Linked DNA regions of Homo sapiens. The protein of the gene in region 1 purifies or fractionates together with the protein of each later gene. This does not show direct contact. Each region holds a gene or a part of one and is shown in the gene's direction. Other genes may lie near its edges. The genes, in order: RP9, SIRT2, VANGL2, ZC3H14, MMAB, SH3BGRL and VANGL1.

Region 1 (3,984 bases):
CTGTTTCATAACTCTCAGCGAAGAAATATTCTTTAAAAACATGAGTCTATTGTAAATTTAATATTCATAGAAACTTGAAAAAAATCCAAAAGTTTGAAAACACATTAATTGTAAATGCAGTTATTGAGTGGTAAAAATGTACATCAGAGATATAGCATGTGTGTGACTGTAAAACATGACAGGGCCTTCAGGGTATAATAAACTATTCTAGCATAACAGGCCATTTCTATTATTCCAGGAAGCCTGGTTTACTTTAATTCTATATTTTGAGGTAGTGAAACTTTTTTTTTTTAATCTCAGAATCTTATTTGGAGCTCCCCAGTCATTGCTATATAAGGACAGATTTTTCTGCTTCACCAGTAACTTTTCTCTAAGAACAGCTACATTGTTTTTGGTATAGTTCTTCTGGTACATTTGTTTCCTGTTTTTTCAATCAGGTGTAACTTGTCTTTTTTTCTAGTTTTGAGGGGTAACTAAGATGATGTTGGCACCGGAAGCCCAGGAAAAAGCCAGGCAAGGGTGGCTCCAAGGGGAGCAGGAGAGAATCCCAGCGCTCTTGCCATGCTGTTTATACCTGTTCCCTTTTTTAGGAAGATGAGACTAAGCCAGAAGATTGCATACCAGATGTACCAGGCAATGAACACGCCAGGGAATTTCTGGCTCATGCACCAACTAAAGGACTTTGGATGCCACTGGGGAAAGAAGTCAAAGTTATGCAGTGTGAGTGTGGGAGAGTTTCCCTAATCCATGCAACTTACATGCCTCAATTTACAAAGAGTGTTTACTTCTTTTATTTAACTTGTTCTCATCACAGCCCTCTTACAGCCAAGGCACGTTCTCCATCTTCTAGATAAGGAAGCATCCACCCCACCCCCCACCACCGTGCCATGTGAAGAAGAAAGAGGGCTGTCATCTTAAGCCAGGAAGAAAGCTCTCACCACAAACCCACCTTGCTGGGACCCTGATCTCAGATTTCCAACCTACAGAATGAATGAGAAAACCAGTTTCTGTTGTTTAGGCCACCCAGAATACGGCATTTTGTTATGTCAGCCCGAGCTGACTAAGACACCATCTTTCTGCAGGTCCCCTTAGCCTCTCTCCCGTGTTGGATCACCCATTTTCCTGTGTCTTGAGTCTTCTTTATTATCATATTCTCTCCTTATGGTGTAACAAATCCTATGGCTGTTACCTTCAAAATGGGTTTATAGAAGATAAAAATGTTAAGACCTTTACTTTTCTGGAATCGTCTTTAACAGATTTTTAACTACCAGGATATTGAATTCTAATTTAAAAATCAGTTTCCTTGAGAATTTTGATGGGAATGCTTCATTGCCTTGATTATTTGTTAAAAGCAAAGACAACGTGCCTCAGAGTTCAGTATCTATCGGTTTTTCTTCTTTGGGTGGGTTATATTTTCCCAGAGAAGGCTCCCACGTGGAGGGAAAGCCATACTATGAGTGTTCTGGGAGCCGAGTGGAGGGAGTCTGGAAATGTGTCCATCTGCTTTTCATTCATTCGTGTGACCCTTTGTGGCTATTGCAGCAGCTTCCTTCAGACCTACCTGATGTCTCCCTGGTCTCCCTGGCCAGAGACCCTCTGTTTTACCTTTTCCACACATTAAACAACCTTCTACCAGGGTCAGGAAAACAGGGTCTCACTCTGTCACCCGGGCTGGAGTGCAGTGGTGTGATCACAACTTACTGCAGCCTCAACCTCCCAGAATCAGGTGATCTCACATCAGCCTCTGAGATAGCTGGGACTACAGGCATGCGCCACCAGGCTTAGCTAATTTTTTTGTACTTTTGTAGAGATAGGGTTTCACCATGTTGCCTAAGCTAGTCTCGAACTCCTGGCCTCAAGCGATCTACCCGCCTCTGCCTCCCAAAGTGCTAGGATTACAGGTAGGAGCCACTGTGCCCAGCCACCATTAATATTCTAAGAGAACTTGTGATTTTATTTACTTAAAAGTGAGAGTTTTGAACAGACTCAACCTGAGAAAGAAGCTTTTATAGTGTCTAAAATAGTAAATGAGAAGCAGAGATACTTTATGAAAACATTTACTCTGAAAAATATACTGAAACACACTTTAAAAAAAATGTACCTTTTGGGCCGGGCGTGGTGGCTCACGCCTGTAATCCCAGCACTTTGGGAGGCTGAGGCGGGCGGATCACCTGAGGTCAGGAGTTGAAGACCAGCCTGGGCAACATGGCAAAACCCCATCTCTGCTAAAAATACAAAAATTAGCTGGGTGTGGTGGTACGCACCTGTAATCCCAGCTACCCAGGAGGCTGAAATAGAAGAATATCTTGAACCCAGGAGGCAGAGGTTGCAGTGAGCTGAGATCACGCCACTGCACTCCAGCCTGAGCGACAGAGCAGGACTCCATCTCAAAAAAAAAAATTCACCTTTTGAAGTAATTCTCCATTGGATTGCTTCATAAATACTTGGTGATAGAATATTATTCCTAAAGGTATAAGACTAAAGGATGCTTGGGGAAGCAATTAGTTTACCTCTGTTTCTGGGATCTTACATGGCTTGTCCATAATTATATTTTGTTTTAGAATTAGAGTTTAATGAAGAAAAACTTGAATATATTCTGCTGATTCTTTATCTTGAGTAGGTGAAACTGTTATCTTACAGAAATATTTCTCTTTTCGTTTTTAGGTTGGCGTTGCAAACGCTATGGTCACCGAACGGGTGACAAAGAATGCCCTTTCTTTATCAAAGGCAACCAAAAGTTAGAGCAGTTCAGAGTGGTAAGTAAAGTCCAAGAGTGTCAATTTACATTTATCAGAGATAGTGAAAATCAGTGAAGCAGAAAGTCACCAGTGAACTTGAATGGTCACATAAAATACATTCCCAGAAGCCCTTTGACCAAAGTGTGTGCTGTTAACTACATGCTTATTAAATTACATTTGTATGACAAATTAGCTCTTTTACAAAAAAAAGGAATTCTTATTAAAGTGATCTTTGTTTGTAACTTGGAACAGTGATTTTTTTTCTGAAACAGACATTGTTATCTATTCAACCGCACTTTTTAAAATTTACTGTGTAAAAAAGTCATGTTTCATGACTGAAATCAGGGATTTAATTTCCCGGTCTTTAAAGAGTACATGTCTTTAAACTGTAAGATTAAAGTGTCCGTATATTTTTTCTTTAGATGACAGTTATTCCCTGTATTTTTCTTTGTTTTTGAGGTGGCAGTGTTATAGCTCTGTGATTGCTCCTGCAGAGCAGGGCTACCCCAAAGACAGTGTGCTGAGAGTAGCCATTTCCTGTATTTTTCTAATTGGAAAATCCATTTTTTAGCCTTAATGAGTTTTCAGTGATGTGACCTAGAACATGTTGAACATGCAGCTACATCAAACAGTAAAAAAAAAAATAAACTGGTTTTCATAACATAGGCATTTCATTGTATTTAACTTGTGATCCATGAAGCCTAACCAAACCTTAACCTTCTCTGACCCTTAAGGCACATGAAGATCCCATGTATGACATCATACGAGACAATAAACGACATGAAAAGGACGTAAGGTGAGGTCGTCCTGATGATAACAATATCCCCTTAAAGTTTTAAAATTATATAAAGTTGGAGAAAACCACTCTAGTGTTAGAGGAATGGTGCAGTAAACATGGTACTTCAATTGTGAAAATATGTGGAGTGCAGGAGTCATGGCTGAAAAGGCCAGTGTTGGGGAATGAGCAGGCCAGCCTCCTCCTCCTTGGGTTAACTTAAAGCCATGGGCTTGGTCCAGCTCTCTGGCCACTGCAGTTGATGTTGGCAACCCATGTTGTGCTGTCTACTTGTACAGTATAATTGATATTTTCATGTGATTCAGTTTATCTTCTCCAGAGTCTTTAGGGATGTGAGCTTTTGTTAAAAATTATACTTAGGCCAGGCTCAGTGGCTCACACCTGTAATCCTAACACTTTGGGAGGCCGAGGCCAGCGGATCGCTGAAGTCCAGGCGTTTGAGACCAGCCT
Region 2 (3,709 bases), on another chromosome or scaffold:
GGGAGGCGGAGGCTGCAGTGAGCTGAGTTCGCACCATTGCACTCCAGCTTGGGCAACAAGAGCAAAACTCTGTCTCAAAAAAAAAAAAAAAAAAAAAACAAGAAGTCACTTATTCCACTCATGGAAAGCCATTTCTGACATTCTTTATGCTGATTTAACAAAGCCTCTGGTGTCCCTGTGAGATAAGGACAGCTGCAGCATTTGCAGAAGGGCCTCTGGAGTGTGGCTGTTCTGATAAAATGCCAGCTGAGTGCCCCTGGGCTGAGGATTCCTGAATAGCCCAACTGCAAGCAGCTGGGGGCAGTGTACAATTCACATTACCCCCATTATGTGTCATTGACAGCAGCGTCACAGGCAGCACCCACGGTGTCATGCTGTCCATGCAGAAATATTTTAAAGAAAATTACCGACTACTGACATTGAAACAATGCTTTATAAATGTGTGCTGAATGAATGAATGGACAGTTGAGCAAATGACTTAGAATTCAGTGGGTTGCAAGTGACAGAAATGCTTTCTTTCTTTCTTTTTTTTTTTTTTGAGATGGAGTCTTGCTCTGTCACCCAGGCTGGAGTGCAGTGGTGCAATCTCGGCTCACTGCAACCTCCGCCTCCCGGGTTCAAGCAATTCTCCCTGCCTCGGCCTCCCAAGTAGCTGGGATTACAGGCACGTGCTACAACCCCTGGCTAATTTTTATATTTTTAGTAGAGACGGGGTTTCACCACGTTGGCCAGGCTGGTCTCAAACTCCTGACCTCAAACGATCCACTCGCCTCAGCCTCCCAAAGTGCTGGGATTACAGGCGTGAGCCACCACACCCGGCCAGAAATGCTTTCAAGCTTCCTAAATCAATAAGAAATAAGGCCAGGCACAGTGGCTCATGCCTGTAATCCCAACACTTTTGGACGTCGAGGTGGGTGGATCACTTGAGCCCAGGAGTTTGAGAACAGCCTGGGCAACATAGGGAGATCCCATCTCTAAAAAAAATAAAATGTAGCCAGGTGCGATGGTGGATGCCTGTGAGCCCAGCTACTCGGGAGGCTAAGGCAGGAGGATCACTTGAGCCTGGGAAGTCGGTGGTGCAGTAAGCTATGATCACACCACTGCACTCAACCATGATTGCACCACCACACTCCAGCCTGGGCAACAGAGTGAGAACCTGTCTCAAAAAAACAAACAAACCAATAAGGCCGGGCGCAGTGGCTCACACCTGTAATTGCAGCTCTTTGAGAAGCCAAAGTGGGCAGATTTGCTTGAGCCCAGGAGTTTGAGACCAGCCTGGGCAACATGGCGAAACCCTGTCTCTACAAAAAATACAAAATTTAGCCGGGCGTGCTGGCATGCACCTGTAATCCCAGCTACTCAGGAGGCTGAGGCAGGAGGATCACTTGAAGCTGGGAGGTTGAGGCTACAGTAAGCCATGATCGTGCCACTGCATTCCAGCCCGGGCAACAGAGTGAGACCTTATCTCAAAAAAAAAAAGAAAGAAAAAAACAAAAAAAATGCAACAACAAGAAGAGAGGTCTTTTCTGAGCAGAGTGGACACCTCAGGAGACACCCATCACACTCCAAGTGATGGAGGTGTGTTCATGTTAACAGTGGAAGAGGGGTGGGGGTGCTGCACCTCCAGACTCCGGCCCAGATCCTCTTACTGCCTTCTCTTTCTTCCCCTTCCCCATACCCAGAGAAGATCTTCTCTGAGGTGACGCCCAAGTGTGAAGACTGTCAGAGCCTGGTGAAGCCTGGTGAGCCTCTGGCCAGGGACCTGCCCAGGTGGATTTGGGTGGGGGTCCCCTCCTCCCCCTGACCCCCTCCCAAAGGCCACACCCGCACACATCTGGCCACCTCTGTCTCTCTGAACAGTGCCCCAGATCCATCCTGGGGAGAATGGGGTCTGTGCCCCTGGCCGGTCCCCACTGCTCCCAACTCCCACTGTGGCCTCCGGGTCTGCCATTGCTCCCACCTGTCCTCTCTGCCTCCCCATGTCACTGTCTCTGTCCGTCCATCTGTCTCCACCTCAGATATCGTCTTTTTTGGTGAGAGCCTCCCAGCGCGTTTCTTCTCCTGTATGCAGTCAGTAAGTGGCCCCCCAGCCTCCCCGCATCCCCAACCGCCGCCTCCACCTGTGCTGGGCCCCATGGGGGCAGCCTGGGCCCTGCCTCAGGAAAGGTCACCTCCCCAGCTATGGGGGGCGGCAGGGAGGTTTGCTGCTGGGGGCGGGGGAGGGAGCGGTGGCGCAGCCTGGGCGGAGGCTCCCAAGCTCACGCCCCTCCCCGCAGGACTTCCTGAAGGTGGACCTCCTCCTGGTCATGGGTACCTCCTTGCAGGTGCAGCCCTTTGCCTCCCTCATCAGCAAGTAGGTTGGGGGCTGTGGCTGGGAGGACGGCTGGGCACCCAGGGCCAGGACAGACCCTGACCCCTTAGCTCCCCCTCCCCACAGGGCACCCCTCTCCACCCCTCGCCTGCTCATCAACAAGGAGAAAGCTGGCCAGGTAAGAGCCCTTCTTCAAGCCCCCGTCGTCACAGGCTCCCCCTTCCCTCTCACCCTTTTCCTCAGAGGGAACCCCCACTGTGGAACCCCAGCACTTTGCATTCCTCAGCTCAGAACCTGGGGCTCTAGAATCCAGAGGGGTCGGGTTCCAGGCCTCTGGGACATTCACTGCCCTTTTGAGCAAGTGATAGAATTCCAACTCAAACCAGCTGAAGCCAGATAGGAAGGCCGGGCTTCCAGGGACTGAGGAGGTGGGAGGGGGTGCAGGGGTCAGGAGAGACAGTGCGGGGGGCGGGGTTGGGTCCACGCTCTGGGTCTCTCAGGTCTGTTTTTCCTGGGCAGCCTCACTCTAGGGCAGGTGCTCCCTCCTAGGTGTTCCCCTCAGGGGAAGTAGGCAGGGTCACCGGGCAAGCAGCGCACGCTGTGGGCAGACACTGTCCCAAGTCTTAGCCTGCGTGAACTCACTGGCGCCACAACCCCATCGCGGTTTTGTGATCACCCCTATTCTACAGGAAACTAAGACACAGAGAGGACAAGTCACTTGACCAAAGTCACTGAGCTGGCTGGGCGCAATGGCTCACGCCTGTAATTCCAGCACTTTGGGAGGCCGAGGCGGGTGGATCACCTGAGGTCAGGAGTTCGAGACCAGCCTGACCAACATGGTGAAACCCCGTCTCTACTAATAATACAAAATTAGCCGGGCATGGTGCTGGGCACCTGTCATCCAGGCTACTCGGGAGGTTGAGGCGGGAGAATCACTTGAACCCAGGAGGTGGAGGTTGCAGTGAGCCGAGATCACATCATTGCACTCCAGCCTGGGCAACAAGAGTGAAACTTTGTCTCAAAAAAAACCAAAAAAACAACAACAAAAAAAAAACAAAGTCACAGAGCTAGGATACAAACCCAGGCCACCTGGCTCCAGGGTCTGTGCTCTTAGCTCTCCCTTCCCTGCTCCTGCCCCTGACCCACCCCCTCCCTGACAGTCGGACCCTTTCCTGGGGATGATTATGGGCCTCGGAGGAGGCATGGACTTTGACTCCAAGAAGGCCTACAGGTGAGGCCCCGCCGGGGGTTGGGGCAGCCTGGAAGGGACAGGGTGAGGTGGGAGCGGGGGCACGAAGGCAGATGAGAGGAGCAGGCAGGGGCGAGCCCGCCTGGGAACTCTGATCTCCTGCTGCACCGCAGGGACGTGGCCTGGCTGGGTGAATGCGACCAGGGCTG
Region 3 (4,930 bases), on another chromosome or scaffold:
TGGGAGGTTGGACCCTGGGCTTAGTTCTTGCCACCTCCATGGCTGAAGGTGGGCTTCCAGCACTTTGAGTGGAACTTATATTGATATCCTTGGACCTTGGCACTATGGATGGTGATGATTAGGGAGCCAGGCAGCTAGGGGGTGCCCACATGCATACCCCTGCCCACGGGCTGCAGTGGGAAAGGGGTGCAAGGCATATGCAGGAAGACCCAGGCTCCTGAGTAGGAATCGGAGACCTTTAGTGGGCAGGGGCCCACAGACGACTCTTCAGGCAGGTTCTGAAGCAGTAATCACACCCATTTCCCTGTGTTCAGGCAGAACCACCCTTCCCTAGTCCCTGACTACGGAGAGAAAAATGGTCCTATCAGAGATCTCTGCCCCTGTCTGAGGAGAACTTGAGGCTTCTTGTCCTCTTTCCCATCGTCTTCCCGTCTGGCTGGAAGTCTTTTAAAAATCAAACCCAAGCACCCTTCTCAGCTGCTTCCAGCCCTGTCCTCGGTGGAGATGAGGAACACTAGGTGCCCTTTTTAGGTACATGTTTTGCTCTGTCCCTGCCCCCCTTTTCTTCCGTGGCCTACTCACCCTGGTTTCCACAGCTCTTTCTCCCAGCCCCGTCTGCATCTATGCTCTGTCTCATTACCTCACCCCAGGCCTAAAGTAGCCGGGACTGGGCTGCGGGGTGGGCCCGGGCTAGAGCAGTGGCAGGAGGTGGCGTCTGGAGCTGCCTGCGTCTGGTCATCGGCCCCCAGCACGCGCCACACATGGGGGTGCTGGCGTTTGTGTTCAACGCCTTGCCCACTTGAGCCGCCTCCTTTGAGTGGGAAATGGGAAAGGGTTGGTCCGCCCTGGTCTGTGTTTTGGCCAACACCCACCCCCCTTATACACACACACACACACACACACACGCACGCACGCACGCACTACTCTAGGGCCCTGCTCCCTCTGCCTGTTGCCAGGTTCTGAGTGTATTTTTTCCAGAGGCCTCCAATTGTTTCCTGAAGAAACCTGATCCCAGAGCTCAGACAAAAGCTGGGGCCGCCAGAGGAGAAACCCCATTCTCTCCTCCTCTGTCCCTATTGCCCCCACCTCCATAACCTCCCTCCCTTTGGATGCTGGGTATGGGTTCCAGGACCCGGCTGCCATCACCTAGGCAACAGGGGGCTTTTGTTGCCATGGTGATCAATGTGGGAGAAGCTGGGCAGCAGGGACAAAAGCCCCCACATTCCCCCCTGCCAAGCTCCCCCCCAATCCCCTTGGGATGATACTGAGACACATTCCATTAATTTTATTTCTGAAAGGCCTTTGGAGGGGAGAAGGGTCTCCTTTTTGTAACAGGCTCTCTCTTCTCTCCCTCTCTCCTCCCTGGCCTCATTTTAACCCCAGATAATCCATGGTTGGTTTGAGCAGGGGACTGAGTGTGTGTGTTTGTGTCTTGGGAAGTGGGGGGCAAGGTGAAAGGCAGTGGGGCACATTCCTTTTCTATAGCCTCCCCCTTCCCCAGACTAGGGCAGCTCCCTGTCCTGCACCAAGTCCGGACTTCCCTCCCTGTCTCGTCATCCCTCTTGACGTTTCCACTTGTTGATCTCATCCAGCCATCCCCTCCCCCCATCTCTTCCCTGGGAACGCTGCCCACCCAGGGGACCCTCCAAACCCCTGATCCCTGAGACTGATTAAATAAGGGGAACTTCTGCCCTTCTCTTTACTCCCCTCTCCTCCCTCCTCCCAGGCCCCCCAGCAGCAGTGCTTGGATTAGTTCCCTGGTGTACTTGAAGACACAGCAGGCAAGGGTCTCAGAAGTCGGGTTCATTTTTGGCACCTGTGTTTGGTAGGGAGGAGACAAGCGTGTTTTGGTGCTTTTTGGGCACTCTGACTTGGGTTGGCAGGCCAGGGGAGCAGGATTCATGTTGAGTCTTTAGTAAGTAGCAGGGGAGGAAGATAGGGGGCACTAGGCTGGGCAGCTCAGAACAAAAGGGGACTGGTACCCTTGTCTGGTTTGAAATTTATCTGTAGGGGAAATGAAATGGCATCAGTTTACCTTCTGGGTGTGTTTGAAGTGGTGGTTCTGGTTGGTGTGTGTGTGTGTGTGTATGTGTGAGACTTCTTTATTTAGTTGTACTAACAGCAGGGTTTATTTATACCACCTCTTTCCCTAGTCTCAGAGGAAGTGTCTGAGGATTGGAGTATGAGTGATCCTGGAGCTAAAACTTGTTAATTGCTTAACTAATTACTAGCTGAACCATTTATAAAAGCACTTCTTTCACCCTCGTGATCCTTACGGCTACCCCATGAAAAGGCATCATTGTCTTCACTATTTTACTAATGAGCTTACCAGGCTACAAGCACAGAGGTGTTAAGTAACTTGCACATAGTCACACAGCTAGTCAGTGGAAGAGTTAGGTTTTGAACTCAGATCTTTGAGTGCACATCTCTGGCTCTTCTGGCTGTTGGCTTTGGCAGATGATGGGTATACAGGAGGATGAGGAGATGGACAGCCTGGGATCTAGTGTGTGTGTCTAGACTCTAGTCCGTGGCAGTTGTTTACTTCTCCACCCCCTTCTCTACCCCCATGTCACTCTGTGACCCACTCGTTGCCTTTGAGCCTCCTAGCAAAATTCAGTTTTTATGAAGAAGACTAGAAAGAATAGGCTGGAACCACAAGAGAAATGCAGGTCAGATGTCTAAACTATAAGGAGGAGTAGGCCAGTAGAATGGGTCCTCAGGAGAGTGGGTAGATGAGCCCAACATATATTTTTCAGGTAGGGGGATAAATAAGGGTCATTTTTGCTGCAAAGTTTTTTGGAAAGGCTTATGGTTGGGTTAAGGTATTATGTCCCTGTCCTCTAAGTGTGTCCTTATCACGCACGTGCTTTGACATGGGGATACTGACAAATATAACTAATCCTATGGAGGATTGCCTCCATTGAACTCTGTTAAGAAGATGAATGAATAGATTTCACATGCTTTCATCTCCCTACAGTCATTATAGTTTCCCTGAGAGCCAGAGAGGCATACAGTCATGGATGTTTTGGTCAACGATGGACCACATATATGATGGTGGTCCCATAAAATTATACTATTGTATTTTTACTGTACTTTTTCTATGTTTAGGTACACAAGTACTTACCATTGTGTTACAGTTGGCTACAGTGTTCAGTACAGTAACATGCTGTACAGGTTTGTAGCCTGGGAGCAATAGGCTATACCATAAGGCCTATGTGTGTAGTAGGCTATACCGTCAAGGTTTGTGTAGGTACATTCTATGATGTTCCCAGGATGCAGCTGCCTAATGACACATTTCTCAGAAAGTATCCCTGTGGTTAAGCGAGGCATGACTATGTTCATTTACTAGGTTGGTATCAGTTCCTTGCTCTGTGCCCATGGGAGGCGAGATGGATATAAATATGTATCAATCATATTGCTTATTCTCAAATTACTGATGGTTTAGAGTAGTTGGAGTAAAGGTAATGATACAAAGCAAATCCATTTTAGGTTTTTTTTTTTTTTGAGACGGAGTCTCGTTCTGTCGCCCAGGCTGGAGTGTAGTGGCATGATCTCGGCTCACTGCAACCTCCACCTCCCAGGTTCAAGCAGTTCTCTGCCTCAGCCTCCTAAGTAGCTGGGATTACAGGCACCTGCCACCATGCTTTTTAGTAGAGACGGGGTTTCATCATCTTGGCCAGGCTGGTCTTGAACTCCTGACCTCGTGATCCACCCGCCTTGGCCTCCTAAAGTGCTGGGATTACAGGCTGGGATTACCCGGCCCCATTTTAGTTTTTAACATAATCAGCCTCTCAGCAGCATTTGACCTGGTTGACTTAATTCCCACCTCAAAACACTGTTAAATTTCTGGCTGCCTTGAGACCCCACTCTTCTGGCTCCCCTCCTCCTCTGGCCTTCTCATCCCCTTTGCCTGCTCCTTTTCCTCTGGACATGTCTACCTATTGGGGTCCTTTATGTCCATGGAAGAGTTAGGTTTTGAACTCAGCTGGATCTGAGTTCTATCTATCCCCATAGCTTTTCACACACTCAGTACCTCCAGCTCAGACTGTCCTCCAAGTCTGGCTCGTCTGACACCTGGCTGCCTACTGTCTCATGGCCACTAACTTAGCAGGCTAGAAGCTGAACTAATTATCTTCCCTCACAAGGCTGCTTCCTCCCCAGTCTTCCCTACCCTACTGATGGTGCTACCATCTGCTCCCTTGCTCAGGCCGGGGATTCTTAACTCTCCCTTCCCGCTCATTAGGTCCTGTTGATTTGACCACCAACATTAAGTCTCAAACATGACTGTTACTCACTCTTCTGTGGCTCTACCCTTAGCAAGCCTGTACTACTGCAGTCGCCTCCTTATTGATCTCCCTGTTTCTATTTTTCCCTCTTTTCAATCCATATCTGCATAGCTAAAATCCTTCAAAGTTTTCCTGTGGCCTTAGAATAAAATAAAGCTCAAGCTCTTCACCTGGTGCCTGGCTGTCTCTGCAGTGCCACCTTCTACCACCCACTCTCTTCCTCAACTCTAGCTCCACTGGCCTTTGTTGGTTCTTTAAATACAACAAGCTCTTTCCTGCCTTTGGCCTTCACACATGTGATTCCTCTGCTCCATGGGCATTTTCCTGCACTCTTTGCTTGGTTAATTCCTATTTCTTCTTCAGGCCTCTGCTGAGGTGTCCTTTTCTCAGACTTTCTAGAACCGCTAAGTTTAAAGTGGTAGCCCTTACTCCATGGGTGTCTCTCATAGTTTGCTGTTCTGCCCTTCCATCATGCCTGCAATCGGTCGTTTATACTTATCTGCTTACTTGTTTGGTGTGCCCCTTCCCTGCTAGACTGTAAACTCAGGGTCTGTTATACCACTTTATACCTAGCAGAATACATGGTTCATAGAAGGTGCTCAAACAAGATTTGATGCGTCAATGACTGAAGATAGGAAGTAAGC
Region 4 (4,930 bases), on another chromosome or scaffold:
CAAGATGAGGTTCCCATATAGAAAAATGGCTTTAAAAGGAAATTGACAAGTTTGAGAAACTTCGCCAACTGTTATTGGACTGTAGTTTTTCAAGCACCATATAATGCCTTTTATATCTTTCCAATGTGTGTAAAATATATAGTACGTAAATATTTTGAAGAGAATTTTGATGAAGTAGGACTTTCATATTAGTAGCATTAGATTCAACATTAGATATGAATTTACGATGTGTAAAGGGGAGTACAATTGGACAATGATAGGTATCTGAAGTTATAGAAATTTGTTAAACAGTAGTATATAAACAAGGTTGGTTTCTTCCCTTTTGGCGGAACTCATTAGTAGAATATAAGGCAGAGAATTGACTCATTTGTGATGTTCCTGCTCCAATTCTAGTGGAAGTACTGAATAATTTTATGAGAGAATATAAAAGTATTACGTTTTCAAAACAGGAGATGAATCAGCTGTAAGCTGGTCTTACGGAAAGCTGATTCTGAAATGCAAACAACTGATGGGTGTCATTTTGTGTTGTCAAATTCTGTACTCTCTGGCCGACCTGTTGTAGCCAATGTGTAAACTTGTGTTAAGAAGCTGATGGTAATGAGCTACTCTAAAAAGATTTAAGTTTTGCTGTGGATTTGGTGGGTGTACTTACAGCATTGCCCTGCTTATCCACTCTCTCGCTTTTTTTTGTGACCCCCCTTCCTAAAATGAGGTAAACTGTAGCCATCAGTTTTTTTATTTGTTTTCTTTTTTTGAGGCGAAGTCTTGCTCTGTTGCCCAGGCTGGAGTGCAGTGGTGTGATCTTGGCTTACTGCAATCTCTGCCTCCTGGGTCCAAGCGATTCTCCTGCCTCAGCCTCCCAAGTAGCTGGGATTACAGGCGCCCACTACCATGCCAGGCTAATTTTTTTGTATTTTTAGTAGAGGCGGGGTTCCACCATGTTGGCCAGGCTGGTCTCGTACTCCTGACCTCAGGTGATCACCTGCCTCCTCGGCCTCCCAAAATGCTGGGATTACAAGCGTGAGCCACCGCGCCTGGCACCATCAGTTTTTGATCCTGATACTTGTCTGTCCTCTTGGTTCTCCTCATCCCTAATTTAACCTTGAACACAAAATTCAACAGGTTTTGGCATATAGAATAAAGATTATCAGGCAAAGGCGCACTCTTGACCTAATGATATATCTACATTTCATTTCCTGATCTATCAGCAATATTAATTGTCTAGAATGATGAGAAGTTTAGAGAAGTTCCATGACTTTGAAATTTTCTTTCTTTACCTAGGTTATCTAAATTACAATTTGAAACTCATATAAGATCATGAAGCTAAGCTTAAATAAACCGCATTTTGTTGAAAATGAATACATATGTACTATATTGTATTCATGGTATGTGGTTGTATGGATATTGTTTACATATGTTTGGATAAATAGGTTCAGGTATCTATCTCAGTAACGTAAGAAAAAATGAATGGTATCTATGGATTGAACTCCTCATATATATGTTCTTTTCTTTTCTTTTTCTTTTTTTTTTGGAGACAGAGTCTCACTCTGTTGCCCAGGCTGGAGTGCACAGTGGTGCAATCTCGGCTCACTGCAACCTCCGCCTTCCGGGTTTAAGCAATTCTCCTGCCTCAGCCTCCTGAGTAGTTGGGATTACAGGTGTGTGCCACTATGCCCGGCTAGTGTTTGTATTTTTAGTAGAAACGAGGTTTTACCATGTTGGCCAGGCTGGTCTCAAACTCCTGACCTCAAGTGATCCACCCACCTTGCCTCCCAAAGTGCTGAGATTACAGGCATGAGCCACTGCGCCCAGCCTGAACTCATATGTCCTAAACCAAAGGAGGCATTTATATTTAATATGACATAGTCACTGTGGAGTTTTGACGTATTACTGCATTTGTATTTCTATCTTTTTTGCTTTTATGTGAAAGTTCCACAGAAACAGACACTTCCAGTTGCTCCCAGAACTCGAACTTCTCAAGAAGAATTGCTAGCAGAAGTGGTCCAGGGACAAAGTAGGACCCCCAGAATAAGTCCCCCCATTAAAGAAGAGGAAACAAAAGGAGATTCTGTAGAAAAAAATCAAGGTAATAACTTAAATGATGTTTCACTCTTTACTACAGTTTTTTCATGAGGCATTGAATATTTTCCAATGGATTTTTATGAAATATTACACTATGAAAAAAGTGATGATTAAGCCCAGAAATAGAATGAGAAGAATACCATGAGGAAGGTTCATACCAACACTTCAGAAAAAAATTTTTTTTTTAAAGAGGTAGGGTCTTGCTGTGTTGCCCAGGCAGTCCTCAAACTCCTGGGCTCAAGCAGTCCTCCTGCCTCAGCATCCTTAGTAGCTGGAGGTGTGTACAAGTGTGTGCCACTGCACCCAGCCCTTTCTAGAAATTTTTGAAAGTCTTTTTATTGTGGAAATTTTTAATATTCTCAAAAATGGAAAGGCTAGTACAGTGAACTCTCATGAACCCAGTCATTAAGCCTTAGTTATTATCAGAATTTTGCTGGTCTTTAGATAGCTCCTTCTTAAAGATATATTTATTTCTGCATTCTTTCTTTTTCTCTTTTTGTTGATCCTGCCCGTTTACCTGAACTTGAAATTTTAGTTACCTTTAAATCTCCCGTCTCTTAAGCATCCTGTCTCTGACCTCCCATATGTGTCCCAGCAACCCTAATTTATCCCCTCGTGCCTAACATACTTCAGTTTGCTTCCAGGTTTTTTTTTTTTTTTTTTTTTTTTGCTTTTTTCTCAGCTTTCTCCCCCAATTCCTATACAATCTTTTGACTTTGAAAGTGTGTCTCTCATCTTCTGACTCCTTTGTGAAAGTATCTCTCCCCTCCTCCTCATTACCCAGAACTAACGCTATTAGTTTGGACTTTTGGTGTCTGTTATCTGACCCCTGGGCCTGCACAGCCCTTCTCCATGACTCTTCAGACCTTTTGTCTCTTTTGTCGTCAAGAAGGATTCTTTTTTCTTCTGTTTCTTTTTCTACTAAGATTTGAATTTTAAGACCCCACCAAAAAAATCTATATGCTTATTATGTTATTTCTCACATACTTTTCAAGAACCTTGGAATATATTTTTTCATTTCTTCAAAACTGTCCTTTAAATTGTTCCAGGTTTCATGAAACCTTATGATTTCAGAATTGTCAATTCTGTATTTGTTTCCTCATTGTGTCTCTTTAAAAATTTTTGACTGTATTGTTCAGTTTGCCATGACAGCGTTATATACTATTCTGATAATTGATAGGCCTGAGGACAAGACCTGTTTGGTCCCCAAACAGCAGATAGGTACCAATTGGAAAATGTGAATGGGCCAAATTGAGAAGAGGAGCTGAAACTGAGGAGGGATTTTGCTCAGTGCAGTGGCAGATGAGGCTGATCTAAAAGGACTGCAGTGGTCTACTCCCTGTGGAGTCTGTAGTGTGTTGCACCAAGGTTTTCTTCAAACACAGGACTCTACGTGAGAGTCTTGGAGTGGAATCAGATGGAGCAGGGAAACAGACAATAGAGAAAAGGAAAGAATGTCAGATAAAAATAGGAGAGGAAAACAATAGGAAATCTCAAAGCAAGGTGCCATATTTTTTAACATCACAAAATCAACAGAAGAAGGTTGTTGATTCTGAAGTTAGAATAGCTATCCAAAGCAAACTTTCCCCTAAAATGAACAACAGAAAAGTATCAAGGTCAAGTCCTGTGCCGAATTAAAAGATAAAAGGGAATAAAAGACAAAACAGCATTGTTTCAATGAAAGCATGCTGAAAGGTATACCAAAAAGAAATACAATTTCAAAGTGAGCTAGAAGACATTATTTAAATAATACAAGACAAAGCCAAGAAAAACATAAAACAGAAGAACTTTGAGGCTGGGTGCAGTGGCTCATGCCTGTAATCCCAACACTTTGGGAGGCTGAGGCAGGAGGATCACTTGAGACTAGCCTGGGCAGCATAGCAAAACCCTGTCTCGACAAAAAATAAAAATATTAGCTGGGCAAGGTATACACCTGTAGTCCTGTCTCCTTGGGAGGCTGAAGTGGGAGGATTGCTGGAGCCCGGGAGGCTGAGGTGGGAGGATTGCTGGAGCCCAGGAGGCTGAGGTTGCAGTGAGCCACGATCATACCATTGCCCTCCAGGGAGGCTGAGGTGGGAGGATTGCTGGAGCCCAGGAGGCTGAGGTTGCAGTGAGCCATGATCATGCCATTGCCATCTAGTTTGGGCGATAGAGTGAGACTGTGTCTCAAAATAAATGAAGACTAAATTAGAAAGAACTCGAAAGAATTAGTGCGTCTTAATAAAATAAAACATGCGTGTAATCCCAGCAATTTGGGAGGCCAAGGCGGGAGGATCACTTGAGGCCAGGAGTTGAAGATCAGCCAGGGCAACATAGCAAAACCTTATGGCTACAGAAAACAGCAATTTAAAAATAAATAAAATTAAAACATCTTCAGAGAAATTGAAGATAAAAGACAAGAACATTTTAAAAGTCTAAAAGGGCTCATGAGAAAGTGGCAAATATTGATAATAGGCAATAGAAATACAGTGTTTTTATAGTAGGAATCTCCAAAGAAACAATATTCAGAGGAACAGAGCAAACATTAACTGTCTTTCAAGAAAACTTTCATGAAGTGAAAACATGTTTGAAACTGTTGTCTGAAAAATTGTACAGTATACCTGAGAATATTTACCCAGAACCATAACACTAAGATGTATTATATAATTAATGAAATTTTAAAAAGAAAAAAAATGATTTGGACATTCAGGCAAAAGGGGCACATGACTTAGAAGAAAAGGAAAGGTAGATTATCATCAAACTTTTCAACAGCATCACTTTTGTGCTGGAAGAAAATGGACTAGCATATTTAAGATACTCCAGAAAAGAAAATGTGAGCCAAGAATTTAATGTCCAGCAAAAGTGACCT
Region 5 (4,344 bases), on another chromosome or scaffold:
TCCACTGTGCCAGACGGGGACCAGGACAGACCAAGTCCCTGTCCTCAGAGCACCATGTTGTGAAGTGGAGACAGTGACATGTGACCAAATAGACTATCAGACAACACAATTGCACCTTGTTTGTGAGCCCTGTATTCTGAGAACAGCAGGAAGTTATTGCTGGGTTCTCAGCCTCAGCCATCTTGGGGACAGGGGTAGACATGAAAGGACCCTGCTGGCTGCTGGGTGCATAAGGCTCCTGAAAGGCCTGCATGGCTGTGGGGAGCCCAGGTGGACGTTGTCAGCAGACTAGCCACCACCTCCTCCAAAGCTACTGACAGCCTTTTCAAGGAATCTTTAGAAGAAAATGAGCAAAGTCTCTATCTACACCACTCAGAGACCAGGCTGCCAGCCAGCTTTACAGAGAAGAGAAAGCAAGCCCTACTTTGATCCAATGGACTGGCACTTTATGTTCATAATTTCATTTACTCCTTGTTGATAGCCCTGGGAGAGAGGTGGTGGTGGCCTCTGTTTTACAGGAGTCAGGAAGCTGTGGCTCAGAGAAATGACACCATGGTCACGGTCCCCCACATGGTTGATAGCAGAATCCAGATTGGAGTCCACGTCTGTCTGGGCCAAGCCTGAGCTCTTCCACGGTCCCACACCACTAAGGTTTTGTTCTTTATGAAAGGCTCTCGGGCCCAGATAGCTCCTTAGAGATCCCAGGTAACAGAACAAGCTTTGGCTTCAAAAGAAAAAACTGTCATTTGTACAAAGCCATCCATCAGCAGTGCTCATAATAGCAAGAAACTGGAAACAACCCAAAGGCCCCGAAAACAGGCATGGCGGAGCAGCTGATAGGTCCTCCATGCAGCAGAGAGTTACGCAGCCATGGCAGTGGCAAGGTGCAGATTGTCCTGAGGTGGGGACACACACCTGGGGCACCTCGGGTGAGGAAGCTCCTCGCTGAGCATGCGGTGCCCACTAGAGACAGCCTGGAGCTCTGTGACAGGCCTGGGTGCACACCCTCCTGGGCCGCTAGCCGGGTGCATGGCTTTGGGTGGGGATGAGAACCCTGAGGCTGGGCTTTGGGTAGCTGGCTTGCCAACAAGGGGTATGCCACAGGGTGATACCTGGGAAAGGCTCGGCAAGGGCCCGCCACCACACTGGTGCCCAGCAGATGGCCGTCCAGTGTCTAATGTATCTGCAAATAGACTGGCATGGACCCCAGGAATCCAGAATCCTGCGGAATCAGGAGCTTGGTCTGCCTGGGTCTTTTTCTCCCCTGTGAAGTTGTTCTAAGTCATGATGTACAAGGGGCTTAGAGTTTAGCCCATTGGGAATTAAGGGTCAGGCCCCCACTTCCTTTGAAGGCTAGAGGCAGACCACCCCAACTTCACCCCACCCAGACCCAGGTCCAGTGGTACAAAAGCTGGCTGGCTGGGGTGTGGTGTAGGCCAGGTGGCTCCCTCAACTCACCAGCCATCCTTGATCCCTCCTTGGCCAGGCCGTCCTGCGATGTGCTGGTGGAAAGGGGGCCGATGGCCTGTTTAAACCCACCTGTGATGGATTTGTCATCTCCACTGCCGGCCGAGCCTGTGCAGGTTCAGGTTGAGCGGTGGCAGGATGTGAAATGCTGCTCAAGGTTTAGGCCCAGGTCAGAGCCTGTTGAGCCCCATAATGTCACGTGACTCAGTGTCTCCTCCCTTTCTAGTGTGGTGCCTCTTGTCCAGATGGGAGAGACCGATGCGAACGTGGCCAAGTTCTTAAACAGGTACTCGCGTGGAACCTGGGGGTTCCTCTCTGAAAGCCGAGGCTCATCTGTGGGAAGTAGCAGCGGTGCAGCGGTCCGGGAAGCAGTGTGGGGCAGCATTCCCGCACCCCCTCCTTCATTCCCTTAGTGTTTATGAACATCTGCTCTGTGCCAGGCACCACGCCGGGCACAGGGGAGGCAGTGGTGAACAAGGTGGGCCCTGTGCCTGTCCCGATAAGATTTAGATCTTATTGGGAGAGGCTGCTGTAAAAACCAGGAAGAAAAACCTAAGTGCAAAGTGGCATTGCGGGGGCAAAGGGCGTTCTTAGAGGCTGGGTGCTCAGGGGAGGCCTCTCGGTGGTGACTGACCAGGGAGCCAGGCTTCAGGCCCTCTCTCAGCCAGTTTCCTGTCCCCGAGAGGGCCTGCGGCAGCATGAACCAACAAGAGAGCCGGGCCAAGCTGCGCTCAGGGGACCCCATGCAGGCCCCAGTGAGCCAGGCTAGCCCAGGGAGGGCTTCCTCTGCCTCGCGGCCGGCCCATGAGGCTGGAGCCACACCTGGCCCAAAGCCTGCTCTGCGGGTTCCTGCCCCAGCCCTGGCTTCTGTGGCATCAGTGTGGGCAAGGCCAGAGCCTGGGGGCAGGTAGAGAGCTGGGGGAGCAGGTCTGCACCCCAGGAGCTGTCCTGGGTGTCTAGAAAGTGACCTCAGGCCCTTGACTGTGGCCACTCCTCCCAGAGACATGGCGCTTTGACGGGTCCTGAGCAGCTCCTTTCCTTCTGGGAGGGGGGTTTCGCCGGGAGTGAGGAGCAGGTCTACTTCACCTTCAAAGCAGCAACCCTGCGGTCCCATAGCATTGCACGGGACAGGCCATTTCATCTCCTCAGTGAGGCTTCACAGAGCCAACAAGCAACAGGCACACCACTGCCCTCCAGGAGCATGCGGCCCAGGGGTAAAATACCCTGAACAACCTCCCCTTCGCTCTTCCTGAGAGCCAGCCGTGGGGCCCAGGGGGCCTGAGTCAGGGGAGGACTCAGGAGGATGTGGTGTGGAGCTGGCCTCTGAGGGCAAGACTGGGGCAGAGAGAGAGGGAGGAACGTGGTGCCTCGTGCTGGGAGTGAAACAGCAAAAGGTGCGGACAGCAGAAGGCAGAAGAGCTGACAGCGTAAGCGCCTTCTGGGGCCCGTGGCGTCGTCCTCTAGTTCCCTCCACTGCTGCCCCTGCAGAAGGCCTCATGCACAGATGACCATTGCTGTTGGTTCAAAGGAGGAGGCGGGAAAGGGGCTGGGCTCTGGTCTCTAGAGTGCTCCAGCCTGTGCTTCTCACCCGGTACCTTTGGCGATGTTTGGAGGCATTACTAGTTGTCACACTGGGTGCAGGGGTGCCACTGGCACCTGGTGGGTGGAGACCAAAGGTGCTGTCAGCATCCTACACTGCACAGGATGCACAGGACAGCCCCGAACACACAGAATGATCCAGAATGTCAGTAGGGCCTAGTCCAGCAGTGTCAGCATCAGCCAGGGCAGGAACTAGACCTGCAGAGCCCCGGGCCCAGCCCAGCCCAGCCCTCCTGAGTCAGAATCTGCACGTCGCTGAGATCCCCTGGTGATGCCTGTGCACACTGTAGTTTGGGAAACACCCAAACTGATCACGCACCTGAGCCCTGATCACTCAAAGGTGCAAAAACCGGCTCAGAGAGGAGTCCAAAGTCATCTGCCCCATGGGGTAGGGCCGGGGCAATGGCCTCATCCTGCAGGAATGGCCCCAGCCTTGACACTGGAGTAGAGTCCTTGGCATTCACAGCAGCTGGCCTCGTGTGCCATCCATTAAGTGCAAGATGGCTGGGCCCCCGCCCTCCCTGCACAATGTGCCCAGAGTGCGTCATTTATATCTCCTCCTTGTAGGCGGATATGGGAAGACCCAGTTAGCGTTGATCTCTCATTTCAAACCATTCTGTTTGCTTCTCTCTCTCTGCCCCTCCAGACTCAGTGACTATCTCTTCACGCTAGCCAGATATGCAGCCATGAAGGAGGGGAATCAAGAGAAAATATACATGAAAAATGACCCATCGGCCGAGTCTGAGGGACTCTGAAATCACAGAAAGTGGGAGCTTGGAGGATCCCTCCATGGCGATGGCCGTGGAGAGAGGAGCTTGCCCTTCTGGGGTCCTGGTTCCTGAAGAGCTCACCCAGAGAGGCTCAAAGCAGCCTTTTGTCCCAGCTCAGCTTTGATCTACACCTCTTGCCACCTTCCTCAAGGGACTGTGACCCTTTGGGGATTCTGTCCCTGACCCTGCTTCCCCAAGCTCTCCTGGGTCTTGGAGGGATGTGGGAATGAATTGGCATTGCAGGAAAGACAGGTAAAGTGATTGCTGCAATGAGAAGGAGCTGTGCGGAAAAGGAATAAAAGTTGGAAAGGCTGGAGCCGTGTGTGTGTGTGTGTGTGTGTGTGTGTGTGTGTGTGTGTGTGTGAGAGAGAGCCCTCCCACTGCCAGCTCAGGTTGTTCACAGATTTGGAATGGGACCAGAGGCCCTTGAAAATGTAATTGTGATTTACCTGTGCCAAAGGTGCTTTAAATGTCACATTTGTAAAGGGGAAGGCGGACAAGATTTGGA
Region 6 (4,930 bases), on another chromosome or scaffold:
GTGCAGGAGTTTGAAGCTGCAGTGATGCAAGCTCATGATACTGCATTCCAGCCTGGGTGAAACAGCAAGACCCTATCTTGGAAAAAAAAAATTAAAGGAATAGATTCCTTCTTGGAAATAAACTTAATATGTGAAATTTTGGACTTGAAAATTTGATCAAGTTAGGAAACATTTTTTTTTAACTTTCCCTGAAGATTCAAAGCTGAACAAAAGTTCATATTTGACATGGCAGAACCTATTAGCAAAGTGTGATTATGGCCAATTCTGTTCAGCTTTATGGAGATGTAGAACACACTAGTAGGTATGTGTACTTGTCATCAGGCAATCTCAGGGCATGGGAGAAATACTTGGTCATTACTCTCCAACTGATGGCTGGAGAGTAATTACTTCAGTGAAGGTACACTATCATGCCTAGTGATACCAGGCCTGGCGACCATTTTAACTTAGCACAGTGAGTCATGTTCTCGACAAAGTAAGCATTCAATAAGGTAGGAAAAGCCTCAAAAAATAATTTATCTTAAAGGTCCTCTGCTCATGCAAATGTGACTGATGACATTCTGCCAGGGTCATGTATGTAAAATTCTTAGCATGTCTCTTCACTCATTCAAAAAAAAAAATCTGTTGGAATGCAAGTTCCCTCAAAGTATGGGGTTTTCACACGTTGCCCAGGCCAGTCTCGAATTCCTGGGCTCAAGCAATCCTCCTGCTTCAGCCTCCCAAAATGCTGGGATTACAGATGAGAGCCACCGTGCCCAGCCTTGAAAGTACAGTCTTAATAGGACATCTTTATATCTACTCAAATTTGTAAATATGCTAATGATCGACAAATTACTTGACACAATTGACATTGACTGAACCCACCTACTGTACCTCAGAAATTGAAACCATTGATTTAATGGAACCTTTCATCAAGTGCATTAGTCCACTAGGCACTCCTATTTATTGAGTTTTACATTGATTTTTCTCAGTTCAAAAGAGGGCATATGTTACATTTAGGAATGAAAGTTTGATTTTATAAGCCAATTAAAAAACAGAATTCCCATTAGAAAAATTACCTTGTAGCAAGTTTTGCTAGATTCTAACTGATCTTTAAAGAGGGACATTCAGTACCCTAATCTAAATAGCATTGAAAACTTTCCGTTTCTTTTGGGAGAAATTGAGAATTATTTTCCCGAGTTTATGTGATGAGAGAGAAAATTATTTAATCACAATCACGAGCAACTTAGAAAGACAAAAACACAACTTTTATGCATATATGCATGTATGTGGGGGTAGATGGAGGGGTGTAAATCCAGAGAGGGACTTGATTGTGAGTTTCTTATTTTGCATTTTTATTCTCATTGGCAGACAGATTTATTTTATTTTATTTTTTGATGACAACACTCCATGTGTCTTTATTTTAATGTGATTCCATGAAGAAACTTGCTTATTGATTACGGTCCTATAACTCAGAAATGTTAAGTTATGGTTTTAAATAGGGGTTAATTACCATTGATGTGTGAATACAGGTTCTAAAAGAAATGCATGTCGGAAGAGAAACTGAACTGAATAGTATTAATTTTACTGTTTTCAAAGCTCTCTTCTAGCTATGATAAGGAGACAGAATACATGTGCCATCTCCACCTGGTTATCTAGATGAACATATTAGGTTGGTGCAAAGGTAATTGCAGTTTTTGCTATTGAAGGTAATGACCAAAACTGCAATTACTTTTGCACCAACCTAATACATAATACACATAAAAGATACCTTAGCAGCACATGATAAGGGCTAATGAATGGTACAGATATATTGCAAACTTTATAGTTTGTAGGATTAGCTAATATATTCTTGTTCAGTTTCTGTTTTGAACACTGAAAATTGAGACTTGAATGACTCTTGAAGCCTGTGCACTTTGTCAAGGAAAGATTCATTTCTATTGCATATACAATTCTTGTTAAGATGGGAAGCAGACGCATCATTTGGAAAAAACTTTCTTGAAAGGCTGAAACTAAGAGAGGCTTGTAGAGTATCAGAAAACATAACTTTTCACTGCACATAATTTGGAGTTAACTGCATTTTTAGATATTGATATGCATCAGTTAGTTTTGCATGTACATCATTAAATAATGAAAATTTTCAATGGAAAAAAAAAAGAGAAATTCAACTTGATAAAAGGACCAGTGGACCAAAAGCTCTTCAATATACTTGTGAGGCATTATTAACAATACAATAATAAAGAGTGAAAATCATATAACTTCTGTGAAACCACAATCTTTGTTCTGTCTGAATTCATTTCTGCCAGCTCACAAACATTTGACTTTTGTTGAATTTGGAAAATACGGTTTCTTGTCCTTTGGTCCTAGATTAAGAAGAAACAACAAGATGTGCTTGGTTTCCTAGAAGCCAACAAAATAGGATTTGAAGAAAAAGATATTGCAGCCAATGAAGAGAATCGGAAGTGGATGAGAGAAAATGTACCTGAAAATAGTCGACCAGCCACAGGTTACCCCCTGCCACCTCAGATTTTCAATGAAAGCCAGTATCGCGGGGTAAGAAAACAATTTAAATTCTTGTTTATTGTAATAGATTGCCCCAAATCTATCCATTATTTTCACCTCTGCCTCCAAGCCTGCATATATATAGTCATATCTCTTGCATATAGTCATTTGTCCTTTCCATCCACTCAAAGGCTGGATGTAGACAATGGCTACATTTTCTAAATATGTTTGCTATTGATTATGCATCACAGCCAAATTTAGGAAAGTTTATTTGTTACTTTTTGAGAATGTGTTGTGGCTTATAAGATGACAGTAGGAATCCCAACCAAATTTAGTCATGTGAAGATTCTCTTGCATTCCCCAGGTTGAAACCTCTTAGCAGTTTGGTTGCTCTTCTGGTCATGCATCATGGACATCTCATTGCCTTTCTCAAAACACAGCAAAGATTAACTATTCTTCTGGCCTTGGGCATGTCTAGCTAATATCTAGTCTATTGTAGGCTCTGAGAAAATCTCAACCTAAATGAATAATGGAACAGAAATATGGTGAATGGAAACAACAGTGTCTGACCAGAAATAAACATCTTCTTACTGGGAAATAGGTGGCTGTTTTGCATGGTGGAGGAAGCTGCAGGCAGAGTTAAATTCCATGTGATGTGGAATAAATCATTCTGCAGTTTTTGTGACATAGAATAGCATACTTTTCAACCTATATTAAATAAGATCCAGAAGCCTTGCCTCTTTATTACTCCTTATTCCTTCCAGAATTCTAGTATTATGGAAGTTAGTCTCTCTGTCCCCAAGGAGGTAGATGATTCTGTCGACCAGTCAGGTCATTCTGAATAAATCTCCTTTTTTTCTTGAGATGGAGTTTCCCTCCTGTTGCCCAGGCTGGAGTGCAGTGGGGTGATCTTGGCTCACTGCAACCTCCGCCTCCCAGGCTCAAGCGATTCTCCTGCCGCAACCTTCCAAGTAGCGGGGATTACAGGCATGTGCCCCCACCCCTGGCTAATTTTTGTATTTTTAGTAGAGACAGGGTTTCTCCATGTTGGTCAGGCTGGTCTCAAACTCCCAACCTTAGGTGATCCGCCCACCTCGGCCTCCCAAAGTGTTGGGATTACAGGCGTGAGCCACTGCTTTCGGCTGAATAAATTTCCTTTTTTTCTTTTATTGGTTGCATATTGCTAATTCATCTTATCTTCTTTTCATCAAGGACTATGATGCCTTCTTTGAAGCCAGAGAAAATAATGCAGTGTATGCCTTCTTAGGCTTGACAGCCCCACCTGGTTCAAAGGTATGATACCCTTTTTTTCCTGTTTTATAGGTCATTTTATTGCTGCTGAACTTTTTTAATCAGTAAGATTTTCATTTTTGTTAAGTATTCAAATTAAGTCAGAGACAATCCTTTATAGCAAAAAGTGCCTTCTCTGCATCCACTTAATTCCTATTAGGGCAGAAAGATGTGCATAACCAAATGCATAAACTATGTGTTTAGCAGGTAGGTAGAGTGACTTCCCCATCAAGCTGCCCATGGGAGCAAATTTCTCATTGACCTATGCACAGATAAGTGCTTAGCAATTTTAAAGCCTTCATTATTCCAGCTGTCCTGCATGGTTCTACATCGACAGTAAGCATCTTAGTTCATGGTAATCTCCTTGGCAGCACTTATTGTCTTTGTGTGAGAGCAAATGATAGAGTCATCCATTCAAGTTAATTAAGAGCATCTGCATTGCAAAACTGGTCACTAAATTGCTCGCCAAATTTGAGGCTTTTTTCCTGCCAACACAAATTAATTTTTTAAGTAGCAGCATTTTCAGGAGAGACCAAATAAAGAAAGCAACAATAAAGTTGCCTGTCTAGTGAGATGTCCCCAAACTATCAACTTTAAACATACCTTTGCCTTTTATAGTAGTTCTTCACACAAACTGCCTTAATCAAAATGCGTGTCTCTTGCTCTGTCATTTTATGTTTTGCTCTTAGCAACTAATTGTATGTTAGACAGATTCTTTGAACTCCAATTCCCTCTCCTATTTTAAAAGGCTGTGTTATTGTCTGTTTTCACTAGACAAAAATTTACTAGTACTGTGTTCATGTCATTGTAAAATGGTTTTCTTGCCGAACTTTCTTTTCCCATGGATAAAATCTTATATTTTAGGCTTTGTACAATTTGAGCCATAAGAAAAGTGAGGTAAGGCACTTTTCTTTAAATAAGATAGAGTACTAGATTGCAGCATCTGCAATCCAGACAGAGCAGCATCTGGAGGCTTGCATTGTGCATTTTAGCCCCAAATAGACTGCAAGAACAAACCAGCAATCCTGAGAGGACCCACAGACCCTCTCAAGGAAGTGGACTGCTCATGTAGGACTCAGGAGACACCCCAAATACTGTGAGTGCCCCAACTGAGGAAGTGGAAAAGGGAGACCCTCCTCTCCCGAACAGATACCCTCACTGG
Region 7 (3,806 bases), on another chromosome or scaffold:
CACCTGTACCTGAAAAAGTAAACAACATTCTTCAATTACTAGCCTTCAGCTTGAAAAGACATGCTGGAGAAGAAGGAAGGGGGAACCCATAGGTGTGGCGTGGAGCCAAGATGTACTATTCAACTATGTGTTTCTGTTTATAAAAAACACATACCATGGAACCATGGTGCTTTTGTTCTTAGTTTTTGCCGTTAGATCCCTTCAAACTGGAAGTTCCTTACAATATCTTTCTCAGGAAATATTTTGGGAAATGGGGTAAGAGATGGCAAGTGTGAGACGGGCTGTGTCAGAGGTTGCTACGTCATGGATACAGTGCAGTTCCAAGTGCCATAAGTGTATGTACATATAGTTAATAATGACACTGTTCATCACCATTCTAAAATACTGTTCTTCCAACCCTATCTTCAATGACCAGTCCAGAAGGGGTTAAGCTGGATTCATTTGCTCTGGCATGTGCATTCCCAGCAGGGTGAAGAAAGGTTTAAATTAAAGAATTTATTTTCTCTCTCCCCCTTCCTCTTTCTCCCAGTCTTTGCATAGGAGAATGTTAGACATTCAGAAATTACTGTTTCTGTTTTAAATTGAGTATTGATTTTTTTATATTGACTTTGTATTGAGTTCTTTTTGAAAGAATAACAAAATAAAATGCAGGATCTTTGTAAAGCCTTTGCACTTTCAACCTCTTTATAGCTTGAGTTACTTTTGCAGTGGGAACAATGTAAATGACATTTAAAAGATTTAAGGTTTCAGAAAGCTGCATCCCACAATTGAACACAATGCATTTTTATTTCAATTCTTGGAACTGGTAGGCTATTCTTTTTAAAAGGGGGTAAACTTCGCCCTAAGGCTGGTAGAATGTATGTTCACATTATAGTAGACAGGATTTCATTTGCCTTATATGTTTATAGATTTTTTATAATTTTCATCCTACGTTATTAAAATTAGAGCATTGAGTGTTAAAGAACTTAATGAGGAGTCTATATCTGAGATTGCTCTCTTCCCTGGTGATGTTTTAACTGGTAGATAATTTGTTCTTAAATATGTACTTTTGAAGATAGGACAGTTTTTATAGTCCATGAACTGAATGTTAAAAAGTTCTGTATGCATTCTCAGAGAGGATTTTAAAGCTATATAGTTCATCCATCCTTTGCATTATCAAAATGTTAAGTCAAATCTGTAATACTTTGGCTAAAATTCATAAAGTAAGCCCTAGAGAAAATACTTGACCACCAAATTTTTGCCCAACTATCATCACCTCCCTTCCCCCGCCTCTGTTCTTGCCTTTTGACATCTACATGGAAGACAAGTTCTTTACAGCAAATGGTAAGAGGCAGGTGACCTGGTGTGTTTGCTGTGTTGTAGTTCATTGCCTGGGGCTTGGGACTCCTTTTTTAATGGAGAGACTAGCTGTGCAGGTGTGTGTTGGATAGGGATAAAGTGCTCACCCCTGCCCTCTCTACAGTAGTTGGTGGTAGATTTCTCTCTCATTTTGCCTCATAATCACTTTCGAGTGCATGTATTTACCTAAGGGCTGTAGCTCTGTGGGATGCTACCAGCATATTGGACTGACAGAAATTGATTACCTTGCCACTCCAACCTACGTACTGAGTGAGTGCTCCAGCCACTCAGTGAAACCAACAAAAGTGAGTCCTTGGTTTACCTTCCAATCTGGGTCCTGCTGTGTAAGTATCCCTAAGTGGGGATGCATATTTGTTTGTGCGTTTTTATTTCCATATATGTGAGCATTTCTCTGAGTGTATTACCAGACGGATAGCACATTTATATGTCAGACATCTTAACATCTGTGTTATCTGTAGCAGGTGTGTAGCTCAGCAGATACGTGTCATTGTGTATATAGCTGAGTGTGTGAGGGTGTCTGTGTTTCTGCAGTCCCCTGTGTTTGAGAGATGACTTAATAACCCTGTGTTTTGAGAGGTCGCTCTAAACCAGTGACTTTTCCCTCCCCTGCTTTATTCCTTTCCCTCACTGACACTGGCTTCTCCCGCTAGAGTAAATGGCTTTAGCACAGCACTGTCTTCTGGGGAGCCTGCTGTCCTGCAGGCAAGTCCATTAAACTCTTTCTTGCTTTAGGACTCTGAAAACAGCAAGAAACAAACAAACAAAGGTCAAGCTCTAAGAAAATTACTGCTCAAACTTCACTACCCTGGAAGCCTTACTAGATATTTCTTAAGGTAACTTAAAAATTGGGCTTTATTTTTAAAAAGTGATAGGTTACTTACAGTAGCACAGAAATGTTAGCATATTTATTTAAATAGTCCTGCAGCAGAGACCCTGCGATTGTAAAGTGATTTAAGTATTTCTGGGTAGTGTTTGTGATTTACGGATTTGTTACTGAAAAACAAAAAAATCACTACTGTGAATTTACTACTATGTAACCTTGTGGTCGTATTTCATTATAAATAAAATAAGAATTGCTCTTCTGCCCACCGTTCTTGATTGGTATTCAGTGCAGTAGCGAAATGAGATAGTTTAGACACTGTTGAAATAACTGCATTGAGCTTTAACCAAGTGTATGCTCAGAAAATTCAGTTTTGGATCACATTTTGACAAAACATGTTTTGGTCAAAGAAAGGAAAGGCTACTAACACATTTATCAGGTAATGTATGTCACAGTCCGTGTTCCACCCAGCCTTGTTATCCCCACATTCTTTCAAGATAGGAGTCATCTTGGTTTTTCGGGTGAAAAACGGAAGGTCAGAGAGGAAGGGGCTTGTCCAAGGTCTCATGTCTGGTTAACAGAATTTCAAACTAGATGTTTGATTCTAACCCCTCAGTCCACTGTACCTTGAAGTATGGTCTAAATGATTCGGCACTTCTGGATGTTGAGGAAGGACCTAGAGACACATCCTTGAACTAGAACCTGGGGTGAGAGTTCATTGGGAGGCAGGATCTCTTCTTTCACTTTGGATTTACACCTTGTCCCTTGGAAAGCTTCTCCACTATGCTAGCAAATATCTTAGGATATTTGATGGAAAGAACTTGAGAATCCCTTCTGGAAAACCCAGCCTTTCAGTGTTAACACCTGCTGCAAGACAGGGATGCTGTTGTTCTGGCAGCCCCCCTTTGCTTTTGCCTGGCCCCACCTTCTGCTCCCACTCTGCTGGCTTGGGCAAGATGCGTGCCTTGGGCCTTGGGTGCAGGGAGGCAGGCAGGGGCTTGACCTGGCCTCTCTCTGGTGCCATGGCAACATTATGCCCCAAACTTCTTCCCTGGTTGGAGTGAGAGGGGCTGTCCACAGCCCCATCCTGTGGGGATCTCAAGCCGGAGTCCCTGGCCTGGCCTCCTTGACGTAGGTGTTCTCAGCAAGCAGTTTGCATCCCACCGTCTTTCTCACACTTGCCCCCAAGACTTTTGACAGAGCAGACGTAAAACAGGACTCAGAAAACCATTTTTCTCTGTTCCCATATGTAGTAAGTTTTGATTCAGTTGTGCATAAACCATAGTTTTCTGCCCTGCTGTTTGCTTTCAATGGAAGACAGTAAAGGGAAGATGGTGCTCACATCTCTCCATGTGACATCTCATTAGGAATTAAGATGCGATGGATTAGAAATGTAAAACTTCAGAATAAAATTAAATTTCAGGGCTCTATAAGTCCCGTTTTCCCAGGTCCTGTTCCGTTTCTACGTAGATAACCCAATTTGTTTTGTCTATGAAATAAGCCTCTTTAGTGGGTTGTTTTAGTCTCTCCAACAAAAGAGCAGATTCCTAAAGCCAGGTGCAGCACTGTGAAAAGTTTCTTTCAATATGGCACCAAGACTCTACCATTTATGTCTCTCTCAGCTTAC

The links.
Region 2: the proteins of RP9 (region 1) and SIRT2 purify together in Homo sapiens (affinity purification with mass spectrometry; one large-scale study listed by BioGRID and IntAct). This does not show direct contact.
Region 3: the proteins of RP9 (region 1) and VANGL2 purify together in Homo sapiens (affinity purification with mass spectrometry; one large-scale study listed by BioGRID and IntAct). This does not show direct contact.
Region 4: the proteins of RP9 (region 1) and ZC3H14 purify together in Homo sapiens (affinity purification with mass spectrometry; one large-scale study listed by BioGRID and IntAct). This does not show direct contact.
Region 5: the proteins of RP9 (region 1) and MMAB fractionate together in Homo sapiens (co-fractionation; one large-scale study listed by BioGRID). This does not show direct contact.
Region 6: the proteins of RP9 (region 1) and SH3BGRL purify together in Homo sapiens (affinity purification with mass spectrometry; one large-scale study listed by BioGRID and IntAct). This does not show direct contact.
Region 7: the proteins of RP9 (region 1) and VANGL1 purify together in Homo sapiens (affinity purification with mass spectrometry; one large-scale study listed by BioGRID and IntAct). This does not show direct contact.

Annotation. Positions count from the first base shown.
Region 1 is NC_000007.14:33,096,043-33,100,026, reverse strand, and holds part of RP9 (retinitis pigmentosa 9 protein), read left to right. Parts: intron 1-590; coding exon 591-720; intron 721-2,664; coding exon 2,665-2,756; intron 2,757-3,472; coding exon 3,473-3,534; intron 3,535-3,984. UniProt on the Homo sapiens protein: Is thought to be a target protein for the PIM1 kinase. May play some roles in B-cell proliferation in association with PIM1.
Region 2 is NC_000019.10:38,879,465-38,883,173, reverse strand, and holds part of SIRT2 (NAD-dependent protein deacetylase sirtuin-2), read left to right. Parts: intron 1-1,682; coding exon 1,683-1,742; intron 1,743-2,018; coding exon 2,019-2,074; intron 2,075-2,276; coding exon 2,277-2,353; intron 2,354-2,437; coding exon 2,438-2,489; intron 2,490-3,000; coding exon of another isoform or gene 3,001-3,033; exon of another isoform or gene 3,034-3,471; coding exon 3,472-3,542; intron 3,543-3,673; coding exon 3,674-3,709. UniProt on the Homo sapiens protein: NAD-dependent protein deacetylase, which deacetylates internal lysines on histone and alpha-tubulin as well as many other proteins such as key transcription factors.
Region 3 is NC_000001.11:160,409,795-160,414,724, forward strand, and holds part of VANGL2 (vang-like protein 2), read left to right. Parts: intron 1-4,930. UniProt on the Homo sapiens protein: Involved in the control of early morphogenesis and patterning of both axial midline structures and the development of neural plate. Plays a role in the regulation of planar cell polarity, particularly in the orientation of stereociliary bundles in the cochlea.
Region 4 is NC_000014.9:88,576,055-88,580,984, forward strand, and holds part of ZC3H14 (zinc finger CCCH domain-containing protein 14), read left to right. Parts: intron 1-1,930; coding exon 1,931-2,086; intron 2,087-4,930. UniProt on the Homo sapiens protein: RNA-binding protein involved in the biogenesis of circular RNAs (circRNAs), which are produced by back-splicing circularization of pre-mRNAs.
Region 5 is NC_000012.12:109,556,505-109,560,848, reverse strand, and holds part of MMAB (corrinoid adenosyltransferase MMAB precursor), read left to right. Parts: intron 1-1,693; coding exon 1,694-1,753; intron 1,754-3,712; coding exon 3,713-3,821; 3' UTR 3,822-4,344. UniProt on the Homo sapiens protein: Converts cob(I)alamin to adenosylcobalamin (adenosylcob(III)alamin), a coenzyme for methylmalonyl-CoA mutase, therefore participates in the final step of the vitamin B12 conversion.
Region 6 is NC_000023.11:81,274,641-81,279,570, forward strand, and holds part of SH3BGRL (adapter SH3BGRL), read left to right. Parts: intron 1-2,343; coding exon 2,344-2,529; intron 2,530-3,690; coding exon 3,691-3,771; intron 3,772-4,930. UniProt on the Homo sapiens protein: Appears to function as an adapter protein that bridges proteins together or proteins with mRNAs. May function as a ubiquitin ligase-substrate adapter.
Region 7 is NC_000001.11:115,693,029-115,696,834, forward strand, and holds part of VANGL1 (vang-like protein 1), read left to right. Parts: 3' UTR 1-3,806.